Linked DNA regions of Homo sapiens. The protein of the gene in region 1 interacts with the protein of each later gene in a pairwise test. Each region holds a gene or a part of one and is shown in the gene's direction. Other genes may lie near its edges.

Evidence for each region.
Region 2: the proteins of OTUB2 (region 1) and FAM168A interact in binary tests that used the Homo sapiens proteins (3 or more experiments, as listed by UniProt).
Region 3: the proteins of OTUB2 (region 1) and PLEKHB2 interact in binary tests that used the Homo sapiens proteins (3 or more experiments, as listed by UniProt).
Region 4: the proteins of OTUB2 (region 1) and PMEPA1 interact in binary tests that used the Homo sapiens proteins (3 or more experiments, as listed by UniProt).

What each region holds. Positions count from the first base shown.
Region 1 is NC_000014.9:94,036,340-94,043,339, forward strand, and holds part of OTUB2 (ubiquitin thioesterase OTUB2), read left to right. Parts: intron 1-1,040; coding exon 1,041-1,136; intron 1,137-2,623; coding exon 2,624-2,742; intron 2,743-7,000. UniProt on the Homo sapiens protein: Hydrolase that can remove conjugated ubiquitin from proteins in vitro and may therefore play an important regulatory role at the level of protein turnover by preventing degradation.
Region 2 is NC_000011.10:73,399,967-73,406,124, reverse strand, and holds the end of FAM168A (protein FAM168A), read left to right. Parts: 3' UTR 1-5,638; downstream 5,639-6,158.
Region 3 is NC_000002.12:131,100,584-131,108,347, forward strand, and holds the start of PLEKHB2 (pleckstrin homology domain-containing family B member 2), read left to right. Parts: upstream 1-4,752; 5' UTR 4,753-4,815; intron 4,816-7,764. UniProt on the Homo sapiens protein: Involved in retrograde transport of recycling endosomes.
Region 4 is NC_000020.11:57,706,995-57,714,508, reverse strand, and holds the start of PMEPA1 (protein TMEPAI), read left to right. Parts: upstream 1-4,493; 5' UTR 4,494-4,926; coding exon 4,927-5,035; intron 5,036-7,514. UniProt on the Homo sapiens protein: Functions as a negative regulator of TGF-beta signaling and thereby probably plays a role in cell proliferation, differentiation, apoptosis, motility, extracellular matrix production and immunosuppression.

The sequences.
Region 1 (7,000 bases):
TGCTCTATTGCATAAAAATGGTCTCCCTGGGTTGTGTGCAGGAGCCAGCCTCATTTATTTTAAGCTGTAAACTATAAGTGGCTTTAACACCATGTCTCTCACAGTATGTTCATGCTGCAATCAAAGCGGCTCTGGGTGGGTTGGAGGCTAGAGTTGCATCTCCTGCTTGTTTGAGCCCTGCTGACAAGATAGCACAAGGCGGAGACCAGGCCCACGGGGAGTTGGCTGCTAGAACGTGTCTCCTGCAGTTTCCTTCACCCTGAAGCTTCCTTTTGCAGTTGCCTCCTCTCTGTCCGCCAATTTCTTCTCTGGCCTGGAGAGATCCTGCCTGTAGGAGGCTTGTCTTTCTGGGTTGGAATTGACCTAGACCCAGAGCTGGGCTGTAGTGTAAACTTTCGCCGGTAGGTGGTGCATGAAGATGCCCTCCTGCCCTGTGCTCCCCGAGCTCAGATCTCTGACACCTTCTCTGGCATCTCCATGTACCAGTGCCACACACTGCGGCCTCTTCTGGTGACCTTATCACCCCCTATCTTGATTGTTTTTCCCTGTAGACTGTGAGCCTTGTGGGTGAGGGAGTGCTAGACGTCCTTCCTTCTGTATTTCCAGCATGTGACACAGTGCTGGGCATGTGGATGTTCAGGAATTGTTGGATGAGTAAAAGAATGAATGAACGAATGAATGAATGCATGAATGAGAGAAGAGGGATGGAAGGAGACAAAGGGCCTTATCCTCCAGCATGAAGGTTCGTTAAGTTTGAGGTACACATTCTGTGAAATGAATCAGGCTTCCAGTAAAAAGATGAGTTTCCTTATAACCAGGGCTATCTCTTCACGATGGCCCCGACCCTGACTATCCCTGTTCTGGAAATGCGGTGATCCCAACGGGCGTCTAGGATGCTGGTAACATACTCCCAGCATGAGAAGGTGGGAAGGTCTCATTCATTGTTGTCTGTAACCGGCAGTTCAGAGGCCACCAGCTCGGGGAGTCCCGTCCGTTGCTTTTGAAATTGTCACAGCATTTCTTCCTTCCCTATCTTTCAGAGTGAAACATCTTTCAACCTAATATCAGAAAAATGTGACATTCTATCCATTCTTCGGGACCATCCTGAAAACAGGATTTACCGGAGGAAAATCGAGGTGAGGCAGAGGGCAGGGAGAAGAGCATCCGAAACTAAACAGGCTGGAGTTGGGAGTGTAATGGTGATGCCTCTTTGAAGGCCGATAGTTTGGGCCAGGTTCCTGGGCAAATGAAAGGATTCCTAGGATATTTTGATGTTGGACATTTGCCTTAGCGATAAATCCTTTCATTCCAAAAAAAAAAAAAGGATTTTTTTTTGTTGAAAAGTTTAGCACTATCCTAATGTTTTATTTACTCACCAATACTTCATTACAACTCTGTGAGGTAAGTACTTTTATTACCCCCATTTTACAGCTGAGGAAACTGAGGCACACAAATTAAGTGGTGGCCATTTAGTTCATGAGTGGCCAAGCTAGGATTTAAACCCAGGCAGCTGAGTCTCAAGCCACATTCATAACTGCTGTGCTGGGAGACCTCTTGGAGGGAAAGTTTACGCCAGTGAGGCTAAAGGGATTTGTGGGAAGGCTGCAGGGATCGCTCATGGAGCACTCACCCGTGGATGGCAGGAGGAGCTGGGTGCCCACTCTGTCCCTCTGGTAGGAGGCCCTGGCCGCTCTCTGCACTCTGCAGGTCTTCCTCTCGCTGCAGGACAGGCTTGCTCTGGCACTGGCCCCACAGGCCCTTCCCTTCAAGTTCCTCTCAGACACGCAGCACCGTTGCTGGGCCTCATTACTTATCCTCAGAGACTCTGATAGGTCCAGCTTGGGTCAGATGTCCATCAGCAGCCAGGGGTAGTGGTGTGGGCATCATGTGATCCGAACGCCGCTGCGGGGCACTTCCAGGGAAGGAGCTGGGCTCTGCAGCCCACTGACTTTTGTGTCCCCCAGAGCCCTCCTGGGAGATGAGCCAGGGGCTCCAGAGAGTGCCTGCCTCCCCACTGCCAGCTGGCCTCAGGTGGGCCCAAGTCGGCTCTGAGCCTTCTCATGGCTATGGGGGGAACAGGAACTCCAAGACCCCTTGAAAACCATCCTCTGCTGTCAAAATGCTGCTTATAGTCCCATGAGGCAGGAAAGGGGATTCCAGGCCAGTTCAGAGGGACACCTACTTACTGCTAGGAGTGGAGCTGGAGCCCACCCCTCCCGCCCCTGCTCACACATGCAACCCCCTACCCCCTACTTCTGCCAGCTCCCGATTCTCAGTGCTGCTCCCCCAGGAAGGCTTCCCCAACTTCCAAAATCCAGTGCAATGCCAGTGCCCCGTGGCACCCAGCCAGGCACTCCTGTCCCCTCACAATGCCACTGTCTAATTATCCATCTTCCCTCCCGGACCGTAGGCTGCCTGGGGGCAGGGACGGACACACAGGACAATGCAGTGTATTTTTATATCAGGGGAATGAACGAGGGTGGGAGGCTGAGGGGATAGCAGCCTGAAGGGAGGGAGCAGACATTTCCTGGGAGAGATGGGGGGCACCTGGCCAGTCCCAGTGCCCAAACCACACAGAGCCGTTGTTGGTGCAAATGCCCACATTTCTTTCTGTCCCCCTCAGGAACTCAGCAAAAGGTTCACCGCCATCCGCAAGACCAAAGGGGATGGGAACTGCTTCTACAGGGCCTTGGGCTATTCCTACCTGGAGTCCCTGCTGGGGAAGAGCAGGGAGATCTTCAAGTGAGTGCCGGGGCCCCTTGGCCTGTCAGGGCTGTGTTCTCTGTGCTAGGTCAGCCTCAAGTCTCTCGGAGGTTTTCGTTACACTCAGGCTGGTTAACCCAGAGAATGAGCTGAAGAGCTGCCTGGCAGAGGCGTTTGATGTTGGGGGTGCCCAGCTGCCTGCTGTGGTGAAGTTGGGGGCAGCCAAGGGGTGGAGGATGGAATCTGTGACCTCCCAGATGCTTTCCAGCCTCTGCTTCCACCACAGGCCTGGGTCAGCCCAGGTGAGTCGCAGGGAGCAGGTACTTCGTGACCCACTCTGAAAAGAAAAGAAAAGACAAACAAAAAGAAGCTTTGCCCCGGTGTTCTGCATAATTCCTGTTGACCTTGGTGTGGAGTGTGTGTGACCCAGGCATTCAGCTGGCTGGGCCTGTCCCTGAGGTTCATGCTGGAGAAGGTCTGTGTCCAGAGCTGCCCCTGTCATCTCGGCTAGTTCAGGGCTTCTCATATCTGAAGTTTGTACAAGGCGCCTGGTTCTCTAGTCCATAGCAAGAAAAAAAAAAGCAAAGACAAACAAACCCCTGAGACCTGGCTTGGACCCGAATTCCTGTCCAGTGGGAGCAGGGCAGAGCAGGGACTGCTTTTGTCACTGGCTCCCAGGAGATGCTGATGCTGCTGGGCCTCAAACCACGCTTTGAGGAGCAAGGAGCTAAGAGACCCACCTGGCTCTTAACCTTTGGGGGTCTCAGAGCCCTTAGAGGCTTTGGTGAGGGCCATGGGCCCTCCTCATCTGAGACCCGCACCGACATGCTCTCTGGAAACAGTACGGGGGGCAGTGGGTCCCAGAGCACTTCTTTGGCTGAGGCAGGTTTCTCAACGGCGGCATGACTGACGTTTTGGGCCAGATCATGCTCACGGTGGGGGCTGTCCTATGCATTGTAGGCCTATTAACAGCATCCCTGGCCCCCTACCCGTGACATAGTAGTAGTAACCCCCTCCCCAAGTCATGACAATCAAAACTGCCTGCAGACACTGCCAAAAACCTCTTTCGGTGGAAAAAAGTCGACCCTATCTGGTTGAGAACTACTAGGTTAAGGCCATCGTCTCCTGTTCAAAATATAGATGATCTCAAAGAGGGTAGAAGTTGAGCCATCTGTTCCTTGGCTGAACCATTCAGATTGTTTTGCCAGTGACAGACTGGCAGAGCCCCTTTTGATGGAGAGTCAGCTATCTCAAGCCATTCCCCTCCCCAACTTTCTCACAGCCCTGTGGGGACCAACACAGCACAGTGCAGGGATTATGACCCCAACTTCATTTCCCCACGACCCATGTCCCCTGGAGTTGTGCCATGCAGCAGCCCTGGGCTCTGAGGCCAGACCTCACTCTCTTGCTTACTTGCTGTGCGACCTTGGGCAAGTGACCTGATCTCTCTGATCCTGTTTTCATGCCTGTGGAAGGTGGACATTATAACACACTTCAGGGGGCTATTGTGAGGACTCAGTGGGTGATGCTGGCTAAGCCCAGCGCCTGCATTTCTCTCTGCACCAGCCCACGTGCTCTGTTTACCTTCACTCCGTCCTGTCTCCCCACTCCAGTCAGCACACACGGGTGCCATGCTCAGACCCTTCTCTAGGCTGTGGGGATACTGCAGTGAACAAGAGAGACAAAATCCCTGCCTTGTGGGGCTTGCGTCCTAATGGTAGAAGATGCACAGTACATGAGTATCACGTTTGAGGTGTCGGATGGTGATAAGTATTGTGGGAAAAATCAGGCAGGAAGGAGGCCGAGGAGTGCAAGGTCTGGGGTTGGCAGTTTCAAGCAGGGTTGGAGAGGTAAGGGCGGCAGGGCACATAGGGCCTTGGGCCTTTCTAAGGACCTTGGCTTTCAGCCTGAAGGACACGGGAGCCACCGAGGGATTGCGCAGCACGGGGGACCTGCCCTGCTGGCTGCTGTGTGCAGGACAGACGGGGGCGGAGACACAGCCAGGGAGATGTGGTCGGGGAGAGATCCAGAGGGGAGATGGCTGTGGCATGAGCAGGTGGATGCAGTGGGCATGGCAAGAAGTGGGCAGGTCTAGACACCTGTGAAGGTGGCGAAAGGATTCGTGCCCGACTCACATGTTGGACATGGCAGAGTCAAGAATGGCTCCCAGAGGTTTGGCCTGAGAGTTAGCAGGATGGAGAAGCCGTTTGCTGCAAAGGAGGGCTGAGGAATATCAGGAGCTGTGTTTTGCGATGCTGTCTGAAATGTCCGGGAGCCATAGAGTAGGGGTGTCTGGTGGGCAGTGGAGGTATAAGGCTGGCGTTCAGCAGGCAGGCCGGGGCACACAGGTGATAAGTCAAACCAAAAGGCTGCATGAGACCACCAGCATTTTTTCTTTCTTTTTTTAAAATATTTTCCTTCTCTCTTTATTTTTTCTTAAGAGATGGGTCTTCCTATGTTGCCTAGGCTGGCCTCGAACTCTTGGGCTCAGGCGGTCCTCCCTCCTCAGCCTGCATCTTCTTAACACAAAAACCGAGACCATGTCACTCCCAAGCTTGAAATATGCCCCTGACCTCTAGGAGCAGTGGAAACCCCTGACACCAACGCCCTCCACACCAGGCCCCTGCCTCTCCTGCCCCGTTGCCTACCCACCCTGAGTTCTAGGCACAGGGACTCACTTATCCTACACACACCAGAGCTTGCAGGCATGACATGCCGCCTGACGCTGCCTGGGCCTAGGTAGCCCTGCTTCTGACCCGGCTGTGGGTTCCTTGGGCCCCAGGCAGGCTGCTTCACTCACTCCTCTGTAGCTCCTTTCCCCAGTTGAACAGTGGCCATAGCCCTGTCACGGACATTAAGTGATTGACTCGTGAGCACTTGGAACACTGACCTGGGGTGTTCCGTGCTAGCTCTTAGCGTCAGCGTCATGCATCCTCCACAAGCCACTGTCTCCCTGTGTGCAGTGAGCCCAGAGCCACCCAGGCAGACACTTGTTCTCTGCTCAGTGCTGCTGCAGGGCTGGAGCAAGCGTGTTGCAGCAGTATGCTTGTTCCAGCCCTGTATCTTGCATACTTGCTCTAGAAGTATGCGAAGTACTTGTGTGTGCCAGAGGCTTGGAGAACACGCGCCGCCTCTGAGGGCAGCCACTGTTACTACCACATCTGATGAGCAAACAGAGCCTCATAGAGGTCAAATGACTTGCCAGAGGTCCCACACAGGCTTGTGTGCAGCCCCAGCGGTCTGAACTTGCACCCCCTCCAAGCCCCAGTGCTATCCTTCTCCCTATCCCTGGCTTGCCTCTCGGGGGTGCATGTCCTGGCCTGGGGGCTTGCCCCCTTCTGACAGAGCCTACGACTGCATGCTGCTTATCTCCGTGCCCCAGTGCCTGGCACAGAGGGGCCCACAAGTCACTGGCGAGGAATGAATGTGGAATGAGGCAGAGGTTTGGGGGTGGGAGGGGGGGCAGGAGAGCTGGGAGCAGAGCAGTGCACTTCATGGCCATGCAGGGACAGAGTGGCTAGAAGAGGGTGCCGGCCCTTGGAGCAGCCCTGGAGGACTGCAGCTGCTTCCTGGAGCTGCTTCTAGTACTCTGGCCATGGGCCACCTAGCCGCAGCTGAAGACTGAACAGGGGGTGCTGATGAGGGTGGCTCCTGAGTGAGAGGCGTTAGCCAGCACTGACCATCAGATCCTTGCCCTGGCCAGGAGGGGAAACCTAGGCAGCAGGTACCACTGCAGTGGAGGCCTCGTCCTCCCAGGCAGCTCTCCGTTCGCCCTCAGCACCCCTGCAGTCAAGGCGTCATCACCATCCACACTTGCGCCAAAGTGGAGCTTATGGCCAAAAGCCACAGGGGGACTTGACAGGGCTGGAGGGGACTGCGGCTAGAAGCCAGCACAGGCTCCATCCCTCCAATCCAGGCACCTCACCCTGCAATCAGGACAAACTAGTCCTGGCCCAGGCAGGACTGTTAGATATGCCAGGACCAGGCAGGGGCAAGCGGCATCTAGGCAAATACTCCTCCTTCTGAGTTAGGAGACCAGCTTCCCGTCCACACCCACCACCTTCTCCCTCCTCACTGCCCCCTGTCCTCCTACAAGGCACCAGGCTTTTCTGGAGCACAGCACCTTCTGAGGTGGCCCAGGCCTCTGTATTCCCTTGTGAACCTTCTGCCTCCTGGGTGCTGTCAGAGCCTCATCTCCGTTCCCAGGCAAAGTGAGGGGCTGGAGAACTAGGTGTGGCCTTAGTGTTCTGCGCCTGCCAGCTGGTCACCCAGGGCCGCTCACCTGGTCCTTGTGGGA
Region 2 (6,158 bases), on another chromosome or scaffold:
GAGGGTGGGGGGAGGGAGGGCATTGTGGGGAAGGAGAGGGAAGAAGGGAGGAGCGGTGCTTGCCTCATGGCTTTGGTTTGAAAGGTCTCTGGCCAAAGCATCTGGCCCTGGACCTTCTGATTTGCACAGTGATGTTAACTGACCTGGCACTTCCTCAAAAGGTGATTTTGTCCTTAGACCTGCCAAGCGGCTGCAGGGTGGTAGGATCCCAGCATCCCGAGGCCTTGGAAGGCCGGATGCCCTGTGTCATCCAGACTTCAGCCTCTGAGCTGTCATGGACCCACTCTGATGAGGAGCTTCCTCCTGATTGGAGTGGGAACCTAGGGCATTTCTCTCCCTTTTCTTTTGCCCTTCCCAGTGCCAGGACTCACCTGTCTGACCATAGAGCTTGCAGGCAGGCCAAGCTCTTGGTTACCTGTGCCATTCATGGCCCAAGTGAAGGAACCACATTCCAGGTGGGTGCTGGCAGCTCTGAAGGTGAGGATAGTGAAGGAAAAGCAATAGCAATAAACATTTCATAGACTCATGGAACTGAAGGGACCTTAGCAATCATCTCATCCATTTCCCTATTTGGCAGATGAGGAAACTGAGGCCCAGAGAAGCGGAAAGGACTTCCCTAGACCTTACAGTAAATTAGCATTAAATGCAGCCTTCCTACCTAGTGGGCACCTTGCTTACAAAAATTTACCTAGGGACGGATTGGCTTGGTTTTGTAAAAATTAAGTCGGCAGCGCCCATACCTGGTGAGTCTGGAATGGTCTCTGGGCTCCTGTTTCTGCTCTTTTCCTCCACGGACTCCAAAGGCGGGGGTTGAAGACTGGGCAGAGGCTACATGGGGGCGGATGGCAGGAACAGAAATTGCAAATGAAGAAATAGCATTTGGAAATTCTGTGAAGACATCTGGAACTTCCGTCCTGTACCTGACTCCACCTCCAGGAGAAGGAGCAGGTGGACTGGCCGAAAAGGAGAGGCCATGCTTTTAGGACAGTAGCCCCTCATCCCGAGAGGAGAGGAAGAGGAGGAAGACAGTGGGAGTCATCAGGAGAGGAGAATGAGGATGAGGCCCAGGAGACAGGCTCATCTGGGAGAAGAGGGACCCCTGGGACGAGGAGGTCCCTGCTAGTCTCAGCCAGGAGCCTGGATTGCCCAGCAGCAGCCTCCGGCACCCAGCGCTTGGCTGGGCCAGCAGCCCCTCTGGGGGTGGGGCACGAACATTTTATTGTAAAAAATGGGATCATTGACAACATTTGGGACTTTAAAAAACTGCTTTCATTTAAAATTCATGCAAACTTGGACATATCCTTACCCCAACCTCCCATGTCTCCCTAAGGGAGGGAAAAATCAGGAAACCCTTGGGTTGGAAGGAGCTCAGAAGCTGTCTAGCCATTCCCAGGAGGGTAAAGCCCATCAGCCTCCTTGGCCTAGAGCCAGGAGTTTGGGGGCCCACCTTCCTGGGCTTCCAAGGAACTTTAGGACCAGTAAGAAAAAATTCAGCTGTTCTAAATTATCTGTTCTGGGTGCTGATGAGGTTTCACTTTAAAACAATAGAAAGTTTTCCAGTGTTAATTCACTTTTTGCAAATACCTCCTTCCACCCTCTTTGGTTTTGTAAAGGTGGGTGAAGGTTGTTCTAGATTATGTCATACGTGTTTGAAAAATGCCAAAATAATAATAATGATAATAATAATAGAAACCTTTGGATTTGTCAGGTGCATCACAGAGGTCAAAGCACTTCACGGCCTTTCATGTACTCGCCCTGAGAGGGACAGGGTTAGAGTTATTACAGTCAATTGACAAATGAGGAAACAGGTTATGGAAGGGAACAGGCCCACAGTGAGCAGCATGCTGGTATCCGCTAGGCTTCCCAGAACCCTGCTGCCTCCATGTGGGCTGGGGTGGAACCACAGAGAGGAGAAAGGAAGAAGAGGAGACCTAGGAATGACCTTGTAACTTTTGTTCTTTCAACACCAGTAAGTAAAACTAACAGCTGGACCTCACAGTTCACAGAACAGTTGAACATAAATTATCTGGTTTAACCCGATGAAATAGAGGTTATTTCTCCTATTTGATCCATAAGGAAATCAAGGCTTGGAAAAGTCAAGTGACTTGCTAATAAGTGACAGAGCCACTCGAATCCCAGGCTGTCTGCTGTCTCGTTCCCCTCCATCTGATCCCCACACAGGCTCACGTACTGAAGCATCTGTGCTCTGTGCCCTATCTTAGCACCTACTATGTAATTCAAGAGCAAAGGGGGGCCCCAAGGTGAAAATAAGGCACTGAAAGGCTGTGGTCTGGAAGAGCCCAGGTCCAGCACCCCTTTTTCAGTATGAGCCCCAGTTCAGCCGGCCTCAGCCTCTTGCTGTGATGGAGATCCACAAGCCTAGCCAAGCTTGGGGAGTCACTGCAAAAGGACTGAGCCCAGGAGAGCGGGGACAGTCATGTGCCTCTGGTAGGATGGGCACAGTTACTGGTAAGGTCACAGAGATCTAGTGGGAGGTACCATAGGTAGATACCTCCAAAGATTCTAGATGGCACGGTGGTCAAGCTAGACAAAAAGTCAGAGCTGGAAGGGCCGTCTCATTGAAGGCAGGCAAGCAAGAGAGGACAAGGGATGTAGCCGCCTGACAGTGAGCTACAGCACTGGCCCCAGGATGCAAACCCCTCTCTCCTCCTCATGCCACTGCCTCTCCCCAAGTGCAACACCTATGGCCAGGATCAGGGGTACAGATGGCTCGTTACCAGCCAACCCTTTTGAATTCTTCTACTTCTACCTGACCCCCTCTCCTCACTGGCCTGGGGTCAAGAAGTTTGAGTCTGGGAGCTGGATTGCCTGCAAATAGTGAAAGCCTGAAACATAATGGTTTGCCATGTTTTGAAAAAAAATGCATATTTAATTTCTTCCTCATGAGATAGGACAGTTGCTGTTCTTTCTTACCTGGCAATGACCCTAAAATGTATATCCTCTTTCCTGAATATTTAGCAGAGACACACACACCTGTCCAGAGCGTTTTTGGTATGCAAAGTACTTTGACATTGGTTGCCAAAGTCCTCCATTTTATAGATGAAAAAACTAAGGCTCAGGAGGCTTGAGACTTGCTAAAAGGTCACACAGCTTGGAAGTGATTCTTCAAATCCTCTGCTCTTTCTGCTGCCACCTGCTGGGTCTCTTGGCAAGCATGGAGGGAGGGGCTAACTGTACTTTATAGAGCTGGGAAGCCCAGTCTCTGAGCTGAGCAGATTTGTATGAACTGCTTTGGGCCAGGACCTGTAATGAGCCCTGGGGAGGGACCCAGAGGCACATCTAACTGGCAGCACAAGGAGGATGAGAATTTGCAACTAAAGGCCTCACTTGGACAAAACACTTTGGGGTCACAATGCCCAGGACCGAAGACATGTTCAAGGACAGCACGAGGCATCTTTCTATTGGGAGACCCATGTCCTTGGTAAGCCTGCACACCTGGCTTCCTAATCCCTGAGAGCCTGCCCACTGTCCAGATCCAGTGAGTTGGTACAAAACGTACAGACTGAAGTCCCTGGGCTTGCTTTTCCCATGGGTGAGGACCAGAACCAGACTCTGAGCATCCTTACCCCTGGCCACCCGAATTGTTCCAAGTTTGAGGTACCCCGTTCCCAGAGATCTGGGGGTCCTTCTTTGGAGGGCTTGCTTTGTTCTGATGGCCTTCAGAAAGGAATCACATGAAGTATAAAAGGACAGGCCCCTTGGTCACCAAGTTTTGGCTCCTCATACAGATAGGACTCATCCAGGTTCCCAGCGAGGCACTGACTAAGCGAGGCTCAGAGCTTCCATATCAAATTCCTCAGCTTTGTTCTGTGCCCAGAGGGGGTGGGCCCCATTCTGGGCCCTGTGAACTTTGTCTTATATATCACCATCTGTATCAGAATTCCTCCTCAATTGCAGTTAAGTGAAAATACGTGGAAGTCTGCTTTTCCATCCTGTATTCTCCCACATCACTACTGGCTGTGCGGCCCCCGCTGCTTGCCAAGCTTGGGAATCCAGAGAGGGGCAGTAGTAGAGTGGGCCAGTTGGGACCCACCCGCAGAGCTGAAGAAACACGCCAGACTAACTGATGGGATTCCACACCGGAGCCTCTGAGCGCACAGGCAGGCATGCCAAGGGGGCTGCAGGGTTTGTCCTTTACTTATCTGCCCCTTTCCTAGAAAACTCCTCGTTTCTGAAATTAGGCATTATATGGTTCCAGGACCCAGCCTTCAAAATTCCTGGCAGGCCAGCTTCAACATTCCATGGCCAGCCCTGCCTAAGCCAGACTTGGGTCCCAGTCCCTCAGTCTCTCCAGTGGATATCTTCTGTGGTGCATGCTGTTGAGTCCAACCCAAAGGCCAACCGAGGCACACAGGAGTTGGGACTGGCTGCCACAAAGCTAGAAAGGGACAAAACAGCACTTGCTTCCCTATGGCCACATGGATAGTCCCTGGATATCCTTGCTGTGGTAGAGGTCCTCTACCCATTCCAGCCACTGATAGCAGGGGGATTTTCCTTCCTAAGGAGAACAGATGTAACAGCTTTGCAAAGTACCGGCCCATAGGAATCAAATGGGTGAGATCAGCTTTGGGCCTGACCCCAGCAAGACCAGCATCTCCAGACCCCAGCCTTTCTCCTCAGGCCTAAGAGAGTCAGGGAAAGAGAGGAGACTGTCCCAGAGACCTTCTCCTCGGGTCAGCCAGATAGTCTGGATCTATGGTGTGACTCAAGCTCCTCCTTACCCAGGGGGGGTAAGGCCAGGCCTCTAGCTACTTGGAGTTGTCTGTAATAATCTTGAAAGGCCCAAGGGCCTGTCCCCATCCTGACTTAAAGGCATCTGCTTCCCTGTTTCATATCACATGACAGAGAAACCTGTTCTCATGGCATGTAACATCCCTGTGAAGAGAGCGTTGTATATGATTTTGTATTTTTTAATTCATTTTAATCTACAGGTTGGAATCTAATTTTTAAATTTTATTGGAACTCACATTTTAAAAAGAAATAAAATTTAAAATAATAATAATAATAATAATAATAATAATAAACCTTTGACCAGTGTCTTCCAAGTAGTTTGATCAAAGAATTTATAGGTGTTTTCAAAACACAGTCCGGAGTGTAAAGATTGGAAAGCCCCATGGCCTTGCCTGTGTGTATGAAGTGTAAATCTGGTTTTGTTTTGTTGTTTTGGATTCTTTTGGGTTTTTGTTTTGTTTTGAAGATCAGACAGTGATCACTCTGAAAGATTGAAGCCAAGAATTTGTAACTATGGTATTTACTGTAAGCTGTAGAACACTCAATAACTATTAAAAAAAAAAATTCCCCCCCAAAAAAAAGTCTTAGGTGACTAGACTGAGTGGTTCTTGGGGAGGGAGGCACAGAGGACTGTCCTGGGCCAGTGAGTCCCTTGGGCGTCTCCCCAAGTTGATGCTAAATTTGTTCTCAGTAGTCAAGAAAAACCTATGGTACATCTTACAGCTGATCTGACAGGGGTCTGCCCTAAGGGTCTCACAGCTGCTGGGGAGCTTTAAGTGGCAACTTCAGCACCCACCCTAAGTGTGTGATGTGGGAGCACAGTGAGGCCATTCAGAGTTGAAATCCATTGAGCCATCCGCGCAATAAAGCTGACATCTATTGTGTGGCTGGTGCCTGCTGCTCATGTTTGTTAAGGCATTCGGTCCTCACAGCACACGTGAGGTGAGCCCTGTTGTTAGCACCATCTTAGATGGGGAAGCTGAGGAGGGTAAGTACCTTGGCCGATGGTACAGAGCTGGTGAGAGGCAGAGTTAGAACTCACATTTGGCACTTGTTCTGGCTCCATAGCCCACGCACCAAGCCCCATGTTCTGCCCATCTCAGAGCAAGCAAGGCCCGAGTTTGTTTTGTTTTGTTTTTGTTTGTTTTTGTTTTTGAGACAGTCTCTCACCCAGCTGGAGTGCAGTGGCGCAATCTCAGCTCACTGCAACCTCCACCTCCTGGGCTCAAGTGATCCTCCCACCTTAGCCTCCTGAGTAGCTGGGACTACAGGCGCACACCACCACTCCCAGCTAATTTTTGTATTTTTTTGTAGAGGCGGGCTTTCACCATGTTGCCCAAGCTGGTCTTGAACTCTTGGGCTCAAGCGATCTGCCTGCTTCAGCCTCCCAAAGTGCTGGGATTACA
Region 3 (7,764 bases), on another chromosome or scaffold:
GGGAGTTCGAGACCAGCCTGACCAACCTGGAGAAACCCCGTCTCTACTAAAAATACAAAATTAGTCGGGTGTCGTGGTGGGTGCTTGTAGTATCAGCTGCTTGGGAGGCCGAGGCAGGAGAATCGCTTGAACCTGGGAGGCGGAGGTTGTGGTGAGCCAAGATCGAGCCATTGCACTCCAGCCTGGGCAACAAGAGTGAAACTCCGTCTCAAAAAAATAAAAAAAAGAAAGAAAGAAATGGATTCCACTGTCTGAAGAAAGCCATGGCTTCTTAGTAGATGTTGAGGGCAAAATGAAGTAAAATTTAGGCATGCAAAAACTCATTGTTTCCCACCCCAAAAAGCAGTTACAAAGTTTCCGTATAGGAGAAGCAAAGGTGCAGCCAGCATGCTGGAACGGCTTCCTGCGCTGCACTCTGCATTGCTTGCCCCTGCTCTTCTCCCTAGTGCTGTGTGTCTGTTTGGGATGGACCTGGGTGTTGGTAAACATTGTGGGGCAGCTGAAATCCTACTGTTCCACCCTGGCTACTTTTATACATATAAAAAATTTCGGCCGGGCGCTGTGGCTCACGCCTGTAATCACAGCAATTTGGGAGGCTGAGGCGGGCGGATCACGAGGTCAGGAGATGGAGACCATCCTGGCTAACATGGTGAAACTCCGTCTCTACTAAAAATACAAAAAATTAGCCGGGCGTGGTGGCGGGTGCCTGTAGTCCCAGCTACTTGGGAGGCTGAGGCAGGAGAATGGCGTGATCCTGGGAGGTGGGGCTTGCAGTGAGCCGAGATCCCGCCACTGCCCTCCAGCCTGGGCGACAGAGCGAGACTCCGTCTCAAAAAAAAAAAAAAAAAACACAAAGAAAGAAAAAGTAAAGGAAGAGTGCCTGTTATCTCCTATTCCTTGGAAGCTCCACATTCCCAATTATGTGGGGTGTAGCAGGGGAGACATGGTATTTTACTTCATGTTCTATTTGGAGTTTTTTTTTTAAATTTACTTATGTTTTTGTATATTTTGTTTTACTATGTTGTCCAGGTTGGTCTTGAACTTTTGGCCTCAAGTGATCCTCCTGCCTCGGCCTTCCAAATGTTGGGATTTCAGGTGTGAGCTAATGTGCCTGGCCTGGAATTTCTTTTTTAACCACCAGAACTTCTCACTTTATTTTCTTCAATAAAGAAACGCATACTAGTAACTGGGCAAGAAATGGAGTGGGGCTTAGCAGCAGGTAATTTGGTTTGAGCCAGTTGAGGGCCACAGAGACAGGTGACTGATGGGTACAGAGTCCCAATGCAACTCTTTGAACTCTTGGACTTCTCCCTCTCAGTTTCAGACAAGAGGCTGCACATTCAGATAGGGGGCTGGAAAGCAGGCGTCCTCACCTGCACCCAGCCTTCTTTCCCCTGGCCTCTTCTCAATAAACATGAACAGGAAGCCAGTTTTTCTTTTCTTTCTTTTTTTTTTTTTTTTTTCTGAGTTGGAGTTTCACTCAGTCGCCCAGGCTGGAGTGCAGTGGCACAATCTCAGCTCACTGCAACCTCCGCCTCCTGGGTTCAAGCTATTCTCCTGCCTCAGCCTCCCAAGTAGCTGGGATTACAGGTGCCCGCCACCACGCCTGGCTAATTATTTTGTATTTTTAGTAGAGATGGGGTTTCACCACGTTGGCCAGGCTGGTCTCGAACTCTGGACCTCGAGCGATCTGCATGCCTCGACCTCCCAAAGTGCTAGGATTACAGGCGTGAGCCACCACGCCCAGCCCAGAAAGCCAGTTTTACTGAATCAGAAAACTTGTTATGGGACACTCCCTCCTCCAGGTACTGGAACGCCTACTTAAACTGAACTTTATTAAAATATTACTTTTTTTTTGTCTGGGTGCAGTGGCTTACGCCTGTAATCCCAGCATTTTGGGAGGCCGAGGCAGGTGGATCACGAGGTCGGGAGTTTGAGACCAGCCTGGCCAACATGATGAAACCCTGTCTCTACTAAAAATACAAAATAAATAGCTGGGTGTGGGGGCGCACACCTGTATTCCCAGCTACTCAGGAGGCTGAGGCAGAATAATTGCTTGAACCCAGGAGGCGGAGGTTGCAGTGAGCCTAGATGGTGCCACTGTCCACCAGCCTGGGTGACAGTGAGACTCCATCTCAAAAAAAAAATTATTATTATTTTGAGGCAGGGTCTCATTCTTTTGCTCAACCTGGAGTGCAGTGACACAATCATGGCTCACTGCACCCTTGACCTCCCGGATTCTAGTGAAGCTTCCCTCTCAGCCTCTCAAGTAGCTGGGACTACAGATGCATGCCACCATGCCAGTCTAATTTTTTTATTTTTATTTTTTTGTAGAGAAAGTGTCCCACTGTGTTGCCCAAGCTGGTCTTGAACTCCTGGGCTCAAGTAATTCTCCTGTCTTGGCCTCCCAAAGTGCTGGGATTATAGACGTGAGCCATCACACCCAGCCTTAAATATTACTTTTTCCTGTTGTTGAAGTGATACATATTCATGAAAGAAAACTTGGAAAATGCAGAAAAGTAGAAAAAAGAAATGTCATCCACAGTCCCATCACTCAGAGAGAATGTGTTAGTGTATTTTTGGATACTCCAAACTCAGACCCTGAAAGGTCCCTAAGACTGACCCTGAAGGTGGTCAGGGCTAGTATAGCCTTAATGAGGGCTGGTCAAGAAGCTTGTTGATGTCAGGCAATTTACCCGAGCTCATCCAGAAGCAGCGGAACCAGGAAGAACCCCATGTCACACAAATCTCTGAACTCTTGTGTTGACTAAGCTATAATATCTTGCAAAAGATGGGATTGCAGGCATCATAGGACTCCCTACCCTGCATTTTTTAAATTTTCCCCAGAGAGGAGCTGGGTTAAGACAGGGGCCCTGATTGGCAGAGTTTGGGGTTTTGAAGACCAATAATAATAGGGCTCTTCCAATATTTTTTTTAAGAGTTTTTCCCTTTTAAATTTAGATATAATTTATACACAGAAAAATGTACAAATCTTTTTTTTTTTTTTTTTTTTTTTTAGATGGAGTCTCTCTGTCGCCTAGGCTGGAGTGCAGTGGCGTGATCTCGGCTCAGTGCAACGTCTGCCTCCCGGGTTCACACCATTTTCCTGCCTCAGCCTCCCAAGTAGCTGGGACTACCGGCGCCCGCCACCACGCCTGGCTAATTTTTGTATTTTTAGTCTCTGAGTATCTGGGATTACAAGCGCACCACCAGGCCTGACTAATTTTTTTTTGTATTTTTAGTATGGACGGTGTTTCACCACGTTGGTCAGGCTGGTCTCAAACTCCTGACCTCGTGATCTGCCTGCCTCGGCCTCCCAAAGTGCTGGGATTACAGGCGTGAGCCACTGTGCCCGGCCAAAAATGTACAAATGTTAAGTATAGTGTTCAGCTTGATAAAGTTTTACTTACACACACGTACCCACCACTCAGATCAATGTATAGAACATTTTCAGCACCCTAGGAGTGGGGTTGCCAGGAGGCTCTCTCAAGCCTCTTTCCAGGCAGTACCCCTACACCACCCCCCAACCCCTGCTAGGCTGGAACGCAGTGGCTTGATTGCAGGTCAAACTTCTGGGCTCAAGCAATCCTCCTGCCTCTGGCTCGCAAAGCTCTGGGATTACTGGCATGAACCATCTCACCTGGCTAACATTTATTTTCCCTCTATTGTCTTCAGAAAACCCCCAACTTTTCATCTGGAATAATTTTAGACTACAAAAAAGTTATAAAGCTAGTATACCCTTCACACAATTTCTCCTAATGTTAACATCTTACATAACCATTATACATTTCTTATAACTAAAAACTACTATTACCTAAACTTAAATTTTATTTTAAGTTTATAGCCTAGCTACATCACCATGTTGCATATGACAGTGTCTCAGTTTTTTTCTTGCTTTTGATTACCTTGATAGTTTGAGGAGTACTGGTGAGGTGTTTTGAGGAATATCCCACAAACGAGATTTGTCTGATGTTTATCTTTCAGTTAGACTGAGGTCACGGTTTTTTTTTTAATCACATGTCAAGGGCAAGTGCAGTGACTAATCACTTTGATTTTCACGTGGAGTGGCTCTACAGCCCTCTTTCCACACTGTACTCTTGGAAAGGTCGTCCCCAGGCATAGGCCACACTCAGGGTGGGTGTGGACGGATTACCACACCCCTCTGGATGAGGTATTATTAGAATTCCTCTGCAAGGAAGATTATCCCTTCTCCCTCATTTATTTAATCACGTATTTATAGCAGCACGGGCTCTGGGCTGTTTTATACTTTAGGTTATAACTTAATGCAATGTACTTTATATTGCTGCTCAAATTGTCCCAGGCGCGGCCCCCGGAAGCTCTCTGGGTAGATCCCTGCGCCCTTGGACGCCCGGTCCTTCAGTTTTTTGAGCACCTCAAGCTTCTGGCCTACAAAACGCTCCCGGCTCAGCTGGAGCTTTCTGCGCCCGGGTCCTAGAGTCGCCCATTTCTCTAAGGCGCCTTGGCCCTATTTTTAGAGAGCGGTATTTAGAAACCAAGATTAGGGTGCTAACAATTTTTTTTTAAATTTTTATATTTTTAAGACAGGATCTCACTTTGTAACACTTCCTTTTAGTGGAAGCGCCGACCTCCTGGGAGACCCACGCCCCCTGCCGCCTTCCGTCCCGTTTCTCAGAAAACCACCCAGACACCCCGCCCCACCGGCCGGGGCCCGCCGCGCATGCGCGCCGAGGCGTGACGTCAGAACGGCGGCCAGGACGCCGGACGTGCGGCAGTTGCAGGCGAGCAGGCGAGGAATCGCCGTGGCGTCTTGGTGTTCTCCACGCTGGTTCGCAGGTGAGTGTCCCTGTTTAGTCCGGACGACCCTAGCTCCTTTCCCCTCTGGCCCGCGCCTCTCCAGATTCTCCTCTAGAGCTGCCCAGCCTCGCGCCCCTCTGAGGGGACCCCGCACCGCGCCACCTCCGCGGTGTCCCCACTCCCTAATTTTCCCTGAGGCTCCTGGCCACGGGTCCGCCCACCTCCCTGGACCACCCTGACCTTCCCCAGGTCCGCCCTCTCAGTCTCCCCTAGAGCAGCCCATTCGAGAGCCCTCCCAGTGGGCCCCCCCGGCCTCTCAGACCCCTTCCCATCGCTTCCCCGGCGTCCGCCTCCGGTCCTTTCCCCGAGCCCCTCCTCTCCGGCCCCGCGGACCCTCCTCCTTTCCCGACTGCAGCCTCCGCCTTGCATCCTTTCTGGCCGCTCGGGAGTGTCCCACATGTCTGACTGCCGGGACCTGCTGCGGCCCGCCGCCTGGGGTCTCCCGGCGTCCGATCTCTACCCCTGCTGCTCCCTCTGCTCCAGGGAACTTGCCTTCTCAGTTCTCCTGCCCAGAGGTCTCCCCTCCTTAAGTCCCGGGGGGCGTTGAGGCTTTACCCTCGCGGTGCGGTCCGCCCCCGCTGCATTTCACCTGCTCTTGGCCTTGCAATGTCTTTAGTCATAAGTGCTTGGTGTACCTTATCTTACATATCTCTCTTCATGTTTGATTCTGTTACTCAACTAGATTGAAAACTCCGGAGGTCAGGGATTTGCATAGGGATCCCCGCCCCGCCACCCCGCTTAAATCTCAAATGTAGACCGGTTCAGGGTGGGTGGAGGAAAGGAATGAGGTGGAGTGGTCACTGTAAAAAATTAAAGGAACATGGTTAATTCAAAATAATACTGACTCATGGTCTCAGCCTTTAAATTTTTAGTGCTTAGGAAAGGGTGGAACCACCACCGAGGGAGGAGGGCTGACAGCTGAGGGGAGGAATATTCCAAGGTCTTCTGTGGCCTTTGGTATGAACCAGTACCAATTCAGGAAGTGACTTGTCCGAAGTCACATGAGGAATTAGGACCCGAGCTGGCACTGGTAACTGCCTGTTTAGTGTGGCCCTCAGTATTTGTTGACTAAACTAATGACCAAAACATGTATGCACAGACACAGCTGTGCGTCTGTGCCCATGCAGTGGGTGTGTCTGCCTAAGGACCTGTGGGGGTGTGGGAATACTGCTGTGACGGTTCAATTGTGGTGCTCAGGAGTGTTCCCTAGGTTCAGAAAGTTCCTAACCCTGGGCTGGTTGGCTGGATATTGATAGGACTGGAGCTTGTCTGGGCTTCCTTTGTGCCTGGTGTTTACTCTCTGTGGTGGTGATCTCTTTACTCGACTCTTCCCTATTCGTACTGATCTCCCTGAGGACAGGAATCAAACTGTGTTGCAGGGTTTCCCTAATAAACAGCATAGTGTTTGGCACTTTGTAGGTGGTCAGTAAATGCTTATTGAAGAAGGCTGCAGAAAAGAACTCAGAACCTGACAGCGGTTCTTTGCTAGCATTATATTTTAAAGGCGGTGGTACATTCTGTAAGTAAATTTCCTGCTATTCTCAAGGACTGAGTTGATTAAATGTGTACAGCAGTGGTATAGAGAGGACAGATACTCTTGTGGTGTTACTCCTTGGGAAGGTGGAGGTTTCTCTCAGCTCTTTCTGAAAGCTTTGCTTATGCTTTTCAGCTTGCATTAATATTTTTGTTTCTCCTTTCCTCTGCCTGCCTTCTTACTGTTTGTCTAAAGAAATTAAAGAATTACCTTATTAATAACAGTAACTACCAAAAACTGCAAAACACACTGTTAAAAATGCTCCCAAAGTGGGGGCTAATTGACCCAGTTGTTTTGTTAGTTATATATTTGCTTCCACAGTGGATCATGGAAACGGAAAGTTGGACTTCCTTGCCTCTTTGCTTTCTTTGCCTGTCTGCCCTTTGATGGTGCTTGTATTAGGCTTGTTGTTAAGAAGTGGTTCCCAACTGGAAATGGCCAATGCCACGTGGGAACTGACCTCTACATGTTGATGGGTCACCCAACCTTCTTTCCCTTCTGTTTCAGAATGTACCTGTGACATCTCTTTGACTCTCCACTGTTGCCCTTGAAGAACAGAGATGAGTTTTCTTCCTTTTTCATAAGGAAGCCACTTTTATAGCGAAAGAGAGCTGGAGAACTGGGATATCATGAGGAGTTGTAGACAGTTAAACCTGAATTCTAGCTTTTGGAACAAAATAGTAATGTAATTGTAGCAGTTCTCACTTTTTTATTTTTTATTTTTTTGAGACGGAGTTTCACTCCTGTTGCTTAGGCTGGAGTGCGATGGCGCAGTCTCGGCTCACTGCAACCTCCGCTTCCCGGGTTCAAGGGAGTCCCCTGCCTCTGCCCCCCAAATAGCTGGGATTACAGGCGTGCGCCACCATGCTCGGCTAATTTTTTGTATTTTTAATAGAGATGGGGTTTCACTATGTTGGTCAGGCTGGTCTCGAACTCCTGACCTCAGGTGATCCGCCTGCCTTGGCCTCCCAAAGTGTTGGGATTATAGGCGTGAGCCAACGCGCCTGGCCAATTCTCACTTTTGGACCATCTACTACAGGGCTGTTTGGACATACCTCCTTTAATTGTCACAGTAACCCCATGACGTAATTGGTTGTGCCTGGTCATACAGGTAAGAAAACTGAGGCTTAGAGAGGTTTAGAATTTTGCTGAAGGTCATACTAGTGAGTAGAAGGCAAAGTAGGCTTCAGGCTTAGAACTGTCAGATTCCAAAGGCAGTATTTTTTGTCCATCTGTTGTCTGTTTCGATTCAATGCTTTCAAAGAGATACAAATTCAAATTTAAAATAATTTAAATTGTTGAATATGGCTTACATTTTAAAGCTTTGCATAGGTTTTATTGGCATAAAAATAATGTTCTTTTGCAGCTAGTTTGCTGGTGTTTTATTCTCTAGA
Region 4 (7,514 bases), on another chromosome or scaffold:
GGCTCTTACTAGTGTTTAAAAGTAAAACAAGACAAAAAAAATGAAATCCAAAGTTGCTAACCTGTGAAAGTTGACAGCCCCAATTAACCCCAACCTGAGGAAGAAAATGACCCTGCTGGACGGTGTTTCCAAAGGTGCTAAGTTGGGAGGGGAGGTCATTAATCTGCCTAAGGTTTCCCAAGACTAATTCTGCAGAGGCAGCTCCGTCCAGGCAGGCCGGGGGTGGCAGGCAGACAGGGGCACGGCTGGCCCTGAGGAGGGCCTCTGCCTTGTCCCCTCAACCGGCTCCCCAAGCAGGACTTTTGTTGGCTCAGTCAGGCACTTTCCACAGTGGCCAGCCACCCTCGGCCAGCGGGCACAGTCAGAACACTGCCAGCCACCCTCAGCTGTGGCCAAAACCCACACTGACTTCCATGGGGTCCCAACTGGCTGCCAGTGTGGGCCTGGCATCTGAGCAGGACTGGTTACAGATTTGCAGGCCCCCGTGTTCAGAAACTGTTAACTATTAGGAATTTCACGATGTCAACAGTAGAAAAAATTAAACTAAAAAATAAATAAATAAAATAATACAATAAACCCCCGACCCTTCAGAGCATGGGGCCCTGGAGAGTGCAGGGGGGTCACACTCCCACGAAGCTGGCTCTGCACACAAGTCCAGCAGAGCACAGATGCGCGGCGCTGCTGGGAGCAAAGCCCCTTAACCTGCTGAAACAGGACGTTTCCTCTGGAAAATCCCCCCGGCCGCGGATTCAACCCATGGGCAGGGCGGATGGTGGCACACGCTGTCTGGAGTCCCAGAAAGGCCTGTCTCTGCAGTCACCCATTTCACAATCCATTTGCTTCACACACCCATTTCACAACCCCATGGCCACAGCCAGGCTGAGAAATGTGTCCCAAACTCCAAACCTGCTGGGACCATGAGAGTCTCCCAGTTCCTGATGCCCCCACTGGCCTGGCATCCCCTCTCTACTGTCCCCTACATGCCCAGCCCACATCTCCCCAGAGAGGAGGCCCAACCCTTTGGGCTCAAGTCGCCTCCAAACCCTCTCCTTTTATATTCTTCCCAGGTCTCGTCCCTCTCTGAAATTATCACCTGGACTCATCTTTTTACACATGTGATGTCAGCCTCACCTGTGAGCCTCAGTATGGCTGGGGCTGCACCTGTGGGTGGTTGGTAACTGCAGGTGGAATGAGATGCCACCTCCTCAGGGAGGGCTTCCTTGATCTCACCCCAACTCTGGCCTTTGGCCTGTTATCACCATGTCTGAAATGACCTCCTGACCTCATTGAGCTATGAGTTTGCATGTGTGTGTGTGTCTTTAGTCCCTTTGTCCCCCACAATGTCACACGAGGTCAGGGAGTTGGTTTTCTTCCCAGCCCTGTGCCCCATACCCAGCACAGAGCTTCACACTGAATAGGAGCAGAATGTTTGTTCAATGAGTGAACAAAACCTTTTTTTTTTTGCCTCTGACTTGTGGCATTCTTCCCAGGGACTCAGGCCTGCCCAATCGCGGTGCCCCCTCCCCACTCCCACTCCCAGCAGTGAGCCCTCCCTCCTCAGCCCATTAACACCTTGGCTCTGCCCATTTCTCCTGGGTAGAATCAGGGAGTTGTGACCTTCTCTGCCTGTGCCTGACAGTGGGCTCTGCCCTTCATGCCCAAAATGCCAGCATCACAGTCCCTGGCACATCTAGGGTTATCAGATTTCGCAAAGAAAAATACAAGCTATCCAGTTAAATTGAGATATACTTACACTAATCATTATTCATAGTTTATCTGAAATTCAAACTGAACTGGGTGTCCTGTATTTAATTCTCGCAGTCCTGGGCACACACGAAGCCTCCTATGAGTGCTGGCAGTCCAGCCTATGCTCCTTCCAAAGCAATTCTCCTTTCCTACTGCCCCGTCAGGGGCCCTGTCTGTGCTGGAATCATCATTGTCCTCAACTGCAAAATGGAAAATAAAATGATAGTGGTTCCTCCCTCCCGGGGTTGCCAAGATGATTAAATAACATAACAACTAAGATGTATCCGGCCCCTTCTCCTCTACTTGCAAGGCATCGATCCCTTCATTCCTCGCAATCACACCACGTGAAGGTGCCATGAAGCCACCCCATTTTGCAGAAGAGGAAACTGAGGTTGGAGAGGTGAAAGCACTCAGCCGAGGTCACACAGCTATGTCCCACTCATCTTTGGGTGACCCTCAGGTTCGGACCCTGAGGTCTGAACACTGCATTAAGCTCTCCAGACAGAATCAACTTCGGAACTAGCGCCAGAGACCACTAAGTCAATCCCAGGTGACACCATCAGCACTCAATAAATGGTAGCCACTGCCGGTGTCGCAGATGGATCAATGGGAGGTCAAGCGTTGTGGGTAGGTTTGGTTTCTTTAAGCCACTGAATTAACTGGTTATTTTTGCCTGCTGGCAGTGCAGCCTCCATTGTGTAAATGCCATCTCACTTCCAAGACAATCAACGTGTGACTTCTCCCAGCCAGACTAGCCAGGTCTCCCGAGACTTCCCGGAGGGCAGGGGCTGTGTCTGGAGTGGCTGAATTCCCCGGCTCAGGGTTGCAGCTCAGCCAGTTTGTTGATTGAATGAATGAAGAAATGGCTGAAAGCAGGGGTGGTAATGATGACCTCCTTCACCCTAGGAAGTGAATGGGACCCAGGTCATCTCCAGGCCCAGCCAGTATTTGCAGTGGCACCCCAAGGGATGCTGGGGGACCCCTTAGCTTTTCTCTTAAGTTGCAGCGGCCAAACTGCAGCAATATCTTCCCTGATAAAAGACACGCTGGTGGTATTGCCCCTTCCTCAAGGCAGGGGCTGAGGGCGCCCAGTTCACAGCAGGGTGCCATCTGGGGTAGACGCTGGGTATTGCCCCACTCCTGGGCCGGGGCCTGGGTCCTGACCTAGTGCTGGCTGTGGCTCCAAGAGTGAGCTTCTCCTCCCAAACAGAAGACGGTCAGTGCCTCTGAACCTCCCTCTGGGCTGGGCACGCTTGGACTCCTCCAAAGAGCTTGGACCAGCCTGAGCCACATCCCTGGGCTTGACTTCTCCAGAACAAGCCTCCTGGTCTTTCTGGGAGAGCTCTGGCAGCATCACTGTGCCTGTGCAGGGAGAGCGGGAACCCACTTCCTGCACCGGCTTTCTCTGAGTTCTTCAGGATGAATTCGCTCTGGTCTAGGTAAGTTCTACCCCGAGGCCACCTTCACTTCCCAAATTCCAGCTTTTCCTTCTCTATCCAAACTGTTACAAACACAGTAACAATAATTTTTAAAAGCTTTTTTTTTCTCTGAACACACTAAGTCCCTGCTAATTACTGAAACTCCAGGCATTACAGGAATATGTGGACACTTAAAGAATCAGGACTACGTGGGAGAGGGGGAGGCAGCTCCCCAGGGTCCTGGGTTGGCACACAGGCTCCACCACTGTGTGACTTTCAACAAGCGACTTCCTTGACCAGCTGCCCGCTCTGTAAAATGGGGAGAGTAATATTCGGCCACACTGAGTCGGTGTCAGGTTGAGTTAATATTTGGAGAGTTTCTGGCACAGGTAGGTGCTCCTTAAGTGCCTGTTAAATAAGTGAAGCTTTGAGAAAGTGTCTAAAAGGCGACACACTAAATTTTTAAGAGGCTGGAGGTGGGCCAGGGAGGGGAGGTCTCTTATGTAATATTTTAATATCTTTTTAAACCTGAAGAATGTGTTCTTGTAGCACTCCTGTAATTAAAACTTAATGAACTAAAAGTACACCCCTCCTGCTCATACCCCTTTTGAACTCCGCAGCCGCGCCCCCCAGCCGGAGGCCCCTTGGGCAGCAGACAATGGGTGTGGATTCGCCCCAGGTCCCGCCGGCTGGGGCGGCGACAATACACCAGTCCCCGACAGCTATTTACATGACAAGGGCTTCCGGGCGTGTCTACGCGAGTTCCCGTCTTTCCTGGTCGTCCTCCTTGGGTTCGGGTGAAAGCGCTTGGGGGTTCAGTGGGCCATGATCCCCGAGCTGCTGGAGAACTGAAGGCGGACAGTCTCCTGCGAAACCAGGCAATGGGTGATCCATCTTGGGGGCTTCCTCCCCCTTTCTCCAATTTCTCTTCCCTGAGCCCCCAGGGACCTTGTGCTCCTCAGAAGATAGGCTAGCCCCAAGAGCCTGGGTCAAGGACCCCAGGGACGGGGGCGAGGGGAGGGCGCACCAGCAACCCGCCCGGGTGCGGCTGGCACCGAGTTCGGCTCCCCGGCCCCGGGCGTGCGCCGGGCAGGCGTTCCAAGCTGACCGCCGTTGGGGAGAGGGCACAGCGCCCCTCCTCCGTTGCGCGGGTGCCGGGTCTACGTGGGCCGCCTAGCTCTGGCCCTTTAAGAGCCCGCCCCGTTTCCCGTCACCCCGCCCCCCGGCTCGGGGAGGGGGTGCGGGGGAACCTCGGCGGGGATTGGCGCAGCGCGCGCCCCCTCCCCGGCCCCCGCGCGGTGGGAACCGGCAGCCCCGTCTAGCGCTGACGTCAGACCGTCTGCCTGCCTCCGACCGCGGTCTCGGAGCGAAACCCGATCTCCTTGGACTTGAATGAGGAGGAGGAGGCGGCGGCGGCGGCGGCGGCGGAGGCGCTCGGCTGGGGAAAGCTAGCGGCAGAGGCTCAGCCCCGGCGGCAGCGCGCGCCCCGCTGCCAGCCCATTTTCCGGACGCCACCCGCGGGCACTGCCGACGCCCCCGGGGCTGCCGAGGGGAGGCCGGGGGGGCGCAGCGGAGCGCGGTCCCGCGCACTGAGCCCCGCGGCGCCCCGGGAACTTGGCGGCGACCCGAGCCCGGCGAGCCGGGGCGCGCCTCCCCCGCCGCGCGCCTCCTGCATGCGGGGCCCCAGCTCCGGGCGCCGGCCGGAGCCCCCCCCGGCCGCCCCCGAGCCCCCCGCGCCCCGCGCCGCGCCGCCGCGCCGTCCATGCACCGCTTGATGGGGGTCAACAGCACCGCCGCCGCCGCCGCCGGGCAGCCCAATGTCTCCTGCACGTGCAACTGCAAACGCTCTTTGTTCCAGAGCATGGAGATCAGTGAGTGACCCCACGCCCCCCTCCCCGGAGACTCCATCGGGCTCGGACCCTATGTCGGGGCACAGCTGCGAGCGGGGGTCCGGGCCCTGCGCGCCCCCTCGGACCGAACGCCCTGCGCCCGGGCAGCGCCCGCCGCGCCCCGGGCGCGCCCTCCCGGCTCGCGGCAGCTGGCGGCCGGCCCGGCTTTGTCCCGCGGCGCTGCGAGCCTGGCACGGCCCCCGCTGTCCGCGCCCCGCCCGCCCGGACTCGGACCCGGGGCTCAGCGGCGGCGCACGGCGCGGGAGGGTTGGGGCGGGCGGATCCGTGAAGTTTCCATTTTATTTCCCTGAGGGCAGTCGCGATGGAGCATTTAGGCCGGCTCTTTATCAACTTTGGGCGGGGGTGGAGGGGCGTGTGAGACACTGTCTGGTCTGCGAGGTGTCTGGGGCTCCGGGCGTGTGTCTGGAGTGTTCGCGGCGCTGTGTCTCGGGCTCTGAGTGGATGTCCGTGCGTCTGTGGAGTGTGCGTGGCTGCGTGGCTCTGTCTGGGTCTTCGGCGTCTCTCGGGGTGTCTGGGGGTCTGAGTCGCGGTCTTGCCCAAGAGTGCGTGTCACCGAGTCTTCCTGCCTCTCTCTGTGTGTCTTTCCCGTGTCCGGGCCGGGGTGCCTTTCTTGAGCGTGTCCATCTTTCTGGGGGTCTGGTCTGGTTGGGCCGGATCTGGGGACCGTGTGTGTCCAGGTGTCTGAATCCAGGGCTCAGCTCTGGCCCGTCTGGCCCAGCGTGGATCTTGAATGTGTGTGTGTCATTGTGCCAGTGTCTGTGTCCCCGACGCACCTATAAATAGCCTCTGTCTGGACAGCTTGGTTCAGTCTGGCTGAGACCATGGTTACAAAGGAGTCAAAGTTTGGGGCTGTTTGTGTTTGGGACTGCCTGGCCCTAAATAAGGGATCAGTGGACCAACGGTGGGGAGTGGGGTTTTGAACCTTGTCGCTAACGCAGCCGCCTGGGCACCCAAAAGTTCAGATAAGTAAGTCTCTACCTCCTGCACACACAGCCCACCTAGGTGGACATTTGGTTGAGTGGAGAATTGAACCACTACCTCCCGGGTTCTGGCTTCTAGCTTCTAGCCTACACCTTGTCCCCCAGCCCACCTTTTCGGGGACCTTTTGCTTCCCTGAGCTTTAGTTTCCCCATCCCCACCCTGAAGAAGCACGCCAGGTGAAGGGGCACACAGTCCTTCCCTGCTGGGGGCCAGGCTGCCCCTAGCTGGGGCCCGGAGCTGAGAAGCAGCCGCTGTGGAATGAAGGCAGTGTCTGGGCGGCTCATAAGCAAGTGTCCGCAGGCGGCTGCCAGTTTGTGGCCCCTGAGCCTATACAGTGAGCTTCAAGTGGTAAAAATAACCAGGCTGGCCGGGCTTTGGTGGTGGGTCCTTCCATCCATCCACCTCTCCACACTCCCTCCCAGCCTGGAATGGAAAGCTCTCCCCCTACCCCACCTTAGCTGGCCTGTGCCAGACTAGCGAGGTGCCAGGAGGACCTGCCCAGAGCCAGCGTTTGCGGAACCGACTTGCCTTCCCAGAGGCCCTTTGTGAACTCAGGAGGCTAATGAAATGCACGAGAATGTTATTAAAATACGTTCGCACACGTTTGGAGAGTCTTGCCTTAGATGGATTGCTGCTTCAGTGCCCTCCTTGCCTCACTTTTTGCCTTTCGCTCTGTAAAGCTGCCTTGAGGACCTCCTGCTCGAGGGGCACACATCCTTGTGTCACCCTTATTCCAAGGGCTGGGCACAGTGCATCATTTTGCTCTTGTCTCTCTTTATGGTTCAGGACTTAAAAAAAAAAAAAAAAAGCATTGTTCTTATTTCTGTCCTTTCTTAGGCTCATCAGTCCATGATGTTTTTGACCTGACATCAAGGCCTCTTGTTAAATGCCTTGCCGCCGCCCTCTGCACTTTGCCCCGCCGCCGCCAGCAGCCTTTGAGTGATTGGGACCCTTGGGGTTAATACCTGGAACCCTAGCCTGTTCCAGCTGGCCCCTGGGTGCCCCAGTTAGTCCTGTGTTCTGTGTATACACAGCCCCCTACTTATTGGAAGAAAGCTGCAAGGCACGGAGGGAACCAACCAGTCTTTAAAATGCAGGTATACTGTAACAGTTTGTTTTCATCAGATTTCCCCGAGAGACTAGGGTGAGGAAGTGGTAAGGCCTGGTGTCTCCTGGAGTTTCTTTACACCAAAAGATAGGAAGGAAGGAGGGAAGGAAAAAAGAAAGGAAAAAAGCTAGTATTTGGTTTTTCTTTTAACTAGTAGTGGCTGCTGTTTTTCATCTAGTACATGCTGGGAGTTGTTTGCAACGAGAACTTGATGGATGGTTTGGAGTTGGGCTTTGAGGCAGTGTCCAAGTGGCTCCTATCCTGTAAGATACCTTCTTTTGGCAGAAGGAAATTGACCTTGCTAGGTCCTTAAGCCATGATGGGCCTCACTGTCTTCATCTGAAGAATGAG